Linked DNA regions of Homo sapiens: region 2 is linked to region 1. Evidence: fine-mapped expression QTL. A gene starts in region 1. The other region holds a variant in brackets. All regions are shown on one strand. Distances are between the middles of the regions.

Region 1 (4,385 bases):
ACTCCAGACATGAGGTCACTCTCAGAGACGCCTGGGCTGAAGTGTTAGTGGTCACTCCTGCTAACTGCTGGTTGCTTAAAGCCAGGCTGTCCTGGGAAGTTTCCCAAGAAACCTGCCAGGGGACAGCATCAGGACTGACCCTTCCCTTCCTCCATCCACCTGCCCACCTCACTGCCGTGCTGAGCCTGGCACATAGCAAGTGCTCAATAGACAAATGTGGCATGGATGCAGGAACTCTGCTATGTGATGGGGGTAGGGAGACCAAAGGACCTGGTCCTGAGGAGCCCCCAGGCTGGTGAGGGAGGCAGACGCTTGGCCAGACCATTCCCGTGCCCTTGAGGTGTACAGCATGGGAGTCCAGCAGAGCCCACCTAAAGGTGGCCAGCCCACCCTCTGTTGCATTCTGGAGCTCCCCAGGGCCCCCTCCTCATCCTCCCAGAGTCTACTGCTTCCCACCTAAGATATGAGCTCGCTTCAGCGAGTGTGGTCCATGTCCCCACCTCAACCACCGCTGGGCTGTGCGACCACTGGGCAAGTCCCTGCCTGCCTCTGAGTCTTCCTTGATTCGGGCTCCAAGCCTCACCTGGACCCTTCCCAGGGCTGGGCAGCCAGTGAGGGCCAAGGAAGCCCTCGAGAAATCCAACTGCAAACACTTACCGAGCCCCTAGTATGTGGCATTTAATCTGCATGGCCACCCAGGGGGGTGGTTAAGGTTTTATTTTATTTATTTTATGTATCATATTATATCATATTATATTATATTATATTATATTATATCATATCATATCATATCATATCATATCATATCATATCATATTATATTATATTATATTTTTGAGACGGAGTCTTGCTCTGTTGCCCAGGCTGGGGTGCAGTGGCTCAATCTTGGCTCACTGCAACCTCTGCCTCCCAGAGTCAAGTGCTTCTCCTGCCTCAGCCTCCCGAGTAGCTGGGATTACAGGAGCTCCCCAACATGCCCAGTTAATTTTTGTATTTTTGTAGAGATGGAGTTTCGCCATGTTGGCCAGGCTGGTCTCGAACTCCTGACCTCAAGTGATCTGCCCACCTTGGCCTCCCAAAGTGCTGGGATTACAGGCATAAGCCACCATACTCAGCTTCATTTTAAAGATATTGTGAGGTGCAGCAGTGACCTGCCCAGGTCACGAAGCTGGGGAAGTGACAGAGCCAGGATCAAACTCCAACTCCAAGTCAGCCTTCTTGCCCTTCCCCACACCACCTGCCCCTGCTGGCCGAAGGCTGGGACACGGCCCTGGCCCCTGGGGCCTCTCCACCCCAGGCCTCTCACTGCCCAGATGCTGAGGCAGGAATGCCTTGGGGCTGCCCGTCCTGCTCCATTTCTGCATTCAGCCAGGCAACATTTGCCCACTTGGGTGTGGTCAGGCCCTGGGGCCTCAGACTCCCACAAGAGGAAAACAAATAGCGGTGGCACCACCAGGTGTGCACAGAAGCAGGGGCTCCACCCTCAGAGGGAAGATGGGGGGCCCAGGGGCTTCAACAAAGAGCTGTCGCTCAGTCTTGAGAGAGCTTCTGCAGGCCAGGGCGCCATCCCCAGGAGAGGGCACAGCACCCACAGAGGTGGTGGCGGAAGTGGCAAGGGCATCAGGATGGGGGTGAGACGCTCGTGGGGGACAGTGGCCCCAACCCCCTCAACAAACCCGGGCCACACGTTGACCACGCCCACGCCAGGGCCCCCTGCTTTCACTGCCCCGGGGACAACACAAAGGAGCACTGACCGGGACAGATGCCTCTCCACCTTGGTACCCCGACAAGGGTGCAGCTGCTCGGGGTGGGACGCTGAGGGGTCGACTCCAGGGGACTGGGGCAGAAGAGCCCCCAACCTCTGAGGAAATGATGACATCATCTGTCCGTCCGTCCGTCCTTCCTGCTTCAGGAGGGGAAACTGAGGCCCCGAGAAGGCCCAAGTCACAAAACTAATGAATGGCAAAGCCAAGAGTCGTCCTGGGATGCGCGGTCTCCCCGCCCCGTGCCAAATGACTCCCTGTTGGGGCTTAGAGTTCCCGAGTCCGCCGCCCACTCTTGGCCCTCGCCCCCGCGGGGTTCCGATCTCTGCTCCAGGACTCGGCCTCCCGCGCCCCGCCCCGCCCGGTGGCCGCGCGCCCGCTCACCTGGCACAGCAGGTCCCTCGCGTAGCCGGCGCACGCGGCCCACTCGGCGGCGTCCACGCGGCTCGCCAGGGCCCAGAAGCGGCGGGTCAGCTCGGCGTCGCGCCCCTCATCGCAGCAGCCGAAGTCCGAGTACTGCGCGCAGAGGCGCAGCGGCTGCGTCGGCCGGAAGGGCGGCCTGAAGTCCAGGCACTGCGGATGCGCGGCGGCCCCGAGCACCCAAAGCGCCAGCAGCGCCCCGGCCCTGGCCCGGGCCATCGCTACGCCCCGCGGGGGAAGAGGCGGAGGGACGGCAGCCCCGGTCCCCTCCCGGGGCGCTCGCGGCGGCAGGGAAGGGGCGGGCGCTCCCCTTCCCTACACGCAGGGCCTCGAGTTTGGGGACCTCCCCTTCTAGGAGGTCACCTCTGGTCGGGGACACTCGGCGGGACTGAAGGAAGAGGGACGCGGCGCAGAATGCGGCACGACCTCTTTTAACCGCTTTCCAAATTCGATGGGAGTGGCCCGGTCTGTTTAAAGCCCCGGTGTGTTTTCCCGGTTCCGCCTGGGGCCCTGCTTCCTCCCCACAGGGCGCTCTTTAGCCAGGGAGGCGCAGGGCCAGAGGCCTGGACTCCTGGGCTTCGGTTCCACCTCCCACTGGGCTAGGGAAACGGATGCCCGCAGCCCGTCCCCGAAAGCTCCCACGTAACATTTTAAAAATGGGGGTGCGAGGGAAAGAACAGGGGGTGTTGCCCCAGGACTCTCAGGGAGAAGTGAAACCTGGCGTAGGGGTGGGGAGGGAGGACGGAGCAGTCTCCGCAGTCCACCCTTTGCCCTTACTGTGGGCTTCTTCCCAGTCTCTGCTCCTGGGGCAGCGGATTCTCCTGCAGCCCAGGACCCACTGGGGCTCCCCACTTCCACTCTCGCATAGGGAGCACTGATGAATCTACCTCCTGGGATGGGCATCCAGCCCTTTGTTCCGCTGCCCCCGCTGGAGATTCAGACCCAACCCCGCCCCACCCCCCCACACACATACAGACGCACACACGCTGTCTTACCTACCCCAGAATCTCATGGCACCAAAACCACCCACACAGACAAACACACACACACTGTCTCACCTACCCTAGAATCTCACAGCACCAAAACCACCCAGGCATTTTTCTCAAGTGGACCTCAGCGTTTGCTTCTCCCTGGAGTGTCCTTCCCCATCTTCTCTGTCCAGTGAGCTCCTACTCCATCTTCATGGCCCCAACGCACACATCCGTCCTCTGCAGGTCTCTTTGGACTGTCCTGGGGGATCATGTTTCTGTCTTTGGGCCCATGCTCCTGGCAGAGCTGGGGGTGGATGAGATGCGGCAGGGCTGGAGCACTCAGAGGTCTGTGGCTCTGGCCTGAACAGGTGCAGTGTAAGAGTCAGGGTCTCCGCACAGCCAAACATCTCTGAGTATTTGAAACACGGGGAATTTAACGCAGGGACTTGAAGCCAAAGAGGCTAAGAAGCCATACAGGGCTCAGTGAAGTAACCTTGAGATCAGCAACAGTAGGAACAGTCCCCAGGTCCTTGATGCAGGAAGAGCAGATGTTACTGGAGCCAAGGAGCTATGGTCACCTTGTCAAAGCTGGACCCTCACAAGGCCTGTCTGGCCACAGCTGGAGATAGCCACTGTCAGAGATTCTGCACAGACAGAGGAGGAGAAATACCCCGGCTTCTCCCTGCCACTTCCCCTCCAACTCCCACCTGTGGCTTTCATTGGCTGAACCTAGCAGAGGGCTGCTAGGGTGGGAAATGCGGCCTGCAACGGCTTCCTGCACAGACAGCTGGGAATAGGCAGAGCCAGGATGGAATCGGAGGGCACGATGGCGCCTACTTCCCAGCTGGGACTCAGAACTGGGTGATAGTCACACATCAACACAGGGCTCCAGATGAGTGTACAGAGGTGGAAGTGACACAGAGCCTGGGCCACAGCCATGAGGTTTGGGCTCCTACAGCCACAGAAAATGTCAAACACAGCCCAGCCCCAGCCAGAGTAACATAAATCCTCACCCTAATACCTATTTACCTCGGTTTCTGTTATCTAGTACATCCTGATTGGCTTTCCAGAAAAACAACAAGGCATGAAAAAAAGATAAGAAAAGTCACAGTCAGGAGCCGGGCACAGTGGCTCACGCCTGTAATCCCAGAACTTTGGGAGGCTGAGGCGGGCGGATCACCCGAGGTCAGGAGTTCGAAACCAGCCTGGTCAACATGGTGAAATCTCGTCT
Region 2 (4,385 bases), 25 kb before region 1:
CTGGAAAGGCAGCCGTTGTGGGCTGCGGGATCTCTCCCCCAACCCTCAGTGTCCCACTGGCAGGCACTTACTTTCTTTGGGCACAAAGGGGATGAGACGGCTTCTGATCTTCACCTGAGCAGGCTGGATCTGACATTTGCCAGGTGGTGCCCGCCTGCCAACGACACACAGGAGGTTATGAGTCTCACCCTGGGAGCCCACCCTGAGGGTGCCTTTTCTCTACAGTGAGGCAGGTATGAACAGCAACGATAGTAACAGGCGGCCATTCACCATGCACCTACTGTGTGGCCTGCAGCTTCCCTGCCCACTCCATGCCCCCAGGATTCTAAGAGCTCCAGGGCATAAATCCCCTATAACAGCCTACCGGCTGCACGCTCAGCCTCTGCTGGAATAGCACCAGGGCTGGAGGCTTACTCTTTCCCAGGACATTTCTAATCCAGAGCATGGACTCTGTCCTCAGGGTGTGAACAAATGCCAGTCTCTCTCCTCCCACAGCCTGCCGTCTGATTCCTGAAATGCAGCCTGATTCCTGCCCGCCACCCTCTCCCACCAGCCCTACAGCCTTTGAGGAGGGTCTCTCTCTGCCCCTCTGGTTCCTGGATTTCTGATGCAGGATCTGAGAGGCTCCTCTGCCTGGAACCACCTAAAGGACGGGGGCGGCGGGGGTGGTAAGGAAAGCAAGCCTTGTGCCTGGAGGCAGAGCTGAGGGATTTGGGGCCTTGGCATGTGGGGTGTGAGAGAGCAGGGAGACAAAAGAGTCAGAGAAGGGTGCCAGGGCTAGGAATTGGGTCTCCTTTGACATTTTTAAGGGCACAATAGGGAATGGAATTCCGTTTTAATTAGTTTTTGGCCGTCGATCTGTGATTCTTTGGGAATGACCCCATTCCAGGACAGACCCACGTGGGCCCACGACTTCAATAGGATTCCAGTGGAAAGGCCAAGGGGTGAAGCAGCCACGTGACACGGAGTGGCCTCCAGACAGGCTTGGCCGAAGAGGGACACAAAAGAGGGACAAGGGTCTTTGTCCCCAGAGGCTGCAGAAACACAACCAGGCACATACGCTTCTCAAAGCTGCAGGAAAAGCGAGGTTTTTTTCTTGCTCTGACCTCCAGAGAACATCCACACACTTCAGACAGACCCAGTGGGGCTTTTGTTCCTTAAGGAAATTGCATTAAAAGTCTTTGTTATGCAAAAGGGTAGGATATCCACCCCAAAATGCCACAGTGGTTACGTGTGGGTAGTAACAGATGACCTGACCCTACCTCCTCCACTCCCCATTTATTTCATTTTCCAAATGTACTATAATGGGACCTCTGTGTAATATGTGTGGGTGCAAAGAAACAGTTATTCCAAGACAGGAGAATGAAGGGAGAAGGGTCAGGGCGGGAGGAGGAATCTAGCCCACTTCTGGCTCCTAACACAAGACCGTGAGCGAGAGAACTCCTTAAGTCTCGTTGGGGTCCCTCTCTATGACATGGGGACAACAAGCCAATAGGGAAACGGGATTGGAAAAACCGAAGATGATGGCTCTAAGGCAACATCTGGCATGAATTAGGCACTCACTTGGTATATGTAGCATTTCCTCAGAGGAGCATTCTTTTTTGAAAATTGGAAATAACCTAAAATTCCAAGGAATGGGTTATAGTGACTCAGCAGAAAATCAAGCAGCCATTAGAAATGGTTTTTTGGAGGGCGATGTTTGCAACGTTTAGACAAAATGGGCATAAATGAAGGAAAAAGAACCAAGTCTGCGTGTGATCCAAATACAACCACATAAATCCTGGCGCTGCATAGATAACAATGGATGGGACCTCAGGGAAATGAGAAGGAAGGGATGGAAGCAGGAAGTGATTATGTTTTATTTGATAAAAAGTCATGTCAATAATTTATGTGTGCTCTTAAACAAGAAAAAAAAAAGTCTGGTAAACAAGGAAAGTGAGAAGCTGACACAAACAGGGGAAAGCTAAGCAGACGCAACCACTAAAGGCAACACAGGATCCTGGAACAGGAAAAGGGCATTGGGGAACAACTAGAAACATCCTTTGAAAAAGAGTGTGGAGTCTGGGCGTGGGGGCTCACACCCGTAATCCCAGCACTTTGGGAGGCCGAGGTGGGCCGATCACTTGAGGTCAGGAGTTTAAGACCAGCCTAGCCAACATGGCAAAACCCCATCTCTACTAAAAATACAAAAATTAGCCAGGCATGGTGGCAGGCACCTGTAGTCCCAGCTAC[T/G]CGGGAGGCTGAGGCAGGAGAATCACTTGAACCCGGGAGGCAGAGGTTGCAATGAGTTGAGATCATGCTACTGCGCTCCAGCCTGGGAGACAGAGCAAGACTCCGTCTCAAAAAAAAAAAAAAAGTAAAAGACTGGAGTTGTAGAGTTTAATTAATAGTGATGGACTGATACTAGTTGACTAATTTTGACATGTACACTATGGTAATGTGAGGTGTTCATAATAAGGGACACAGGGTAAGGGGCATACAGGAAACACTGTAGTTTTTACAACTTATCTGTAAATCTGAAACTATTCTAAAATGTCTTTTGTTTTGAGATAGGGTCTTGCTCTGTTATCCAGGCTGGAGGGCAGTGGTGCGATCATAGCTCACTGCAGCCTCGACCTCCTGAGTTCGAGTGATCCTCTCACCTTAGCATCCCAAGTAGCTGGGACTATAGATGTGCGCCAGCACACCAGACTAATTTTTTAATTTTTTGTTGAGATGGGGTCTTGCTATGTTGACCAAGCTGGTCTTGAATTTCTGGGCTCATGAAACTCTCCGACTTCAGCCTCCCAAAGTGCTGGGATTACAGGTGTGAGCCACTGAGCCCAGTGTAAAAGATTTTAAGCACAATAAGTGTTTTAGAATTTTTCTTTTTGTAAAATTAATTAATTTTTTTAGAGACAAGTTCTCCCTGTGTTGCCCGGGCTGGACTTGAACTCCTCCCATCTGCCTCCCAAGAACGTGAAACATGCCAGCTTGTTTCAGGATTTTCCCAAACCTGGTGTGTCTCAAAGTTTAGGGTAACTAAACACAGTGGGGACTCCTAGAGTCTGCCAAAGGTGTGGATTCTCGGAGTGCAACCTCAGGCCTTGCGTTAGAGACAAGTACAAGCTGTGTCCGTACCCAGTGTTGAAGAGACGTTCAGACTGCTGTGGAAGCCAGCAGAGAAGCGAAAATCTAAGGGCTGAGAAGCAGCTTAGAAAGCTGATCACTCATTTATTCATCAAGTGTTCCTGAGTCTCTGCTCCGTGCCATTCCCAGCACCTGGGCGGCCTCTGCAGAGTGAAGAGATACAGGCTTGGCCCTGAGACTCCCAGAGCAGCTGGGAGAGAGTCAGTCGTGTAGCCCAGGGATTACCAAGTCTGAGTGATGAGAGCTGAGGAAGGGCTGGACAGAGGCCTGGAGGGCAACGTGGGTTGGGGAAGGTGCTTGAAGAGGGTGAGGTGAAGGCACACAGCCAAGGGGTTAGGGCAGGGCTCTGGAGCCAGTGGCCTGGGCCCCACCCTGGCCCTGGGCCCCAGGCCCATGACTTCGTGTCTTTGTGCTCATTTCCACCACTGTAAAATGAACGGCTGAGACGTCAATGAGCTGCACACGGAAGGAGCTGGGACATAGCCGGGCATGGCGCTTCTGGCCTTACAGCTAGAAGGGAAGCCGGGGAGATGGAGCCGGCGAAGGGAGCCCCAATGTGTTTTCCCCAGTGGAAGATGGACCACAGGAGGAAGGGCAGGCACGGGGCGGGGACACACAGGGATCAGGGTGTCATCTGGGAGGCATCACAGAGGCAAATTGGGGGCTGGGGTGTGGGGGTGCAGGGGCAGCCCAGGAAATGAGGAATGAGGGGCCTGCTAGACAGGAGGAAGACGCAGGGAGGGCGGGCCAGGCAAGAAAGCCAAGTGAAGCCTCGGCCCGCGGCCCCAGTCACCTCTCCAGCTCCCTCCTATCCTAATAGACCTGTGCTTTGAGGCGTGCAGACCCGGGTCTGAATCCTGGGTCTGCCCCTTGCCGGAGGAACTGAGGCAAATCACGTCCCTCTCTGGGCCTCAGGGTTCTTGTCTGAAAATGGGGATTAATACCACCCACCTGAGGGCGAGGCGGAGGGGACAAGCCCGTGGAGCTAAGAGGCCTGACAGACAGCAGGAGCTCCCTGTCCTGGAGGCTGGGACTCACCTGGATGCGTCAATTATTTTGTAGACAACTCCGCGTGGAGCTGTGGCACTCGGCTCCCCTGTCGACATGAAGTACAGCTCCCCTTTGGACAGAACAAAGTGACTAGTGAGACCCCCACCTGGAATACCGTCCCAGCCAGCCCCGCCTCACCACCCGGCTCCCTGCAGGCTTGGAAATAGACCCCAACCCCAGCTAGCCATCACGTGAGGCATCCCAGC

Which allele goes with the higher level. Positions count from the first base shown, and alleles are read on the strand shown. Sizes are in standard deviations (SD) of each study's normalised expression.
For the expression in spleen of the gene that starts at base 2,481 in region 1, T is the high allele of the variant in region 2 and G is the other (moderate effect, 0.41 SD a copy in GTEx).

The links. PIP is the estimated chance that this variant, and not a neighbour inherited with it, causes the effect.
Region 2: its variant is fine-mapped to the expression of HHIPL1 in spleen (GTEx, PIP above 0.99).

Annotation. Positions count from the first base shown.
Region 1 is chr14:99,643,225-99,647,609 of GRCh38, reverse strand. It overlaps HHIPL1 (HHIP like 1), which reads right to left and starts at 2,481. Exons shown (of 9, transcript NM_001127258.3): 1 at 2,148-2,481. The coding sequence starts at 2,402.
Region 2 is chr14:99,668,086-99,672,470 of GRCh38, reverse strand. HHIPL1 (HHIP like 1) reads right to left here. Exons shown (of 9, transcript NM_001127258.3): 7 at 4,168-4,249; 8 at 72-154. Among named protein-coding and RNA genes, the nearest start is that of CYP46A1, 14 kb to the left of the region's middle. RefSeq lists enhancers at 110-709, 710-1,311, 1,312-1,911, 2,853-3,394. The variant T/G (reference allele first, on the strand shown) is at 2,233.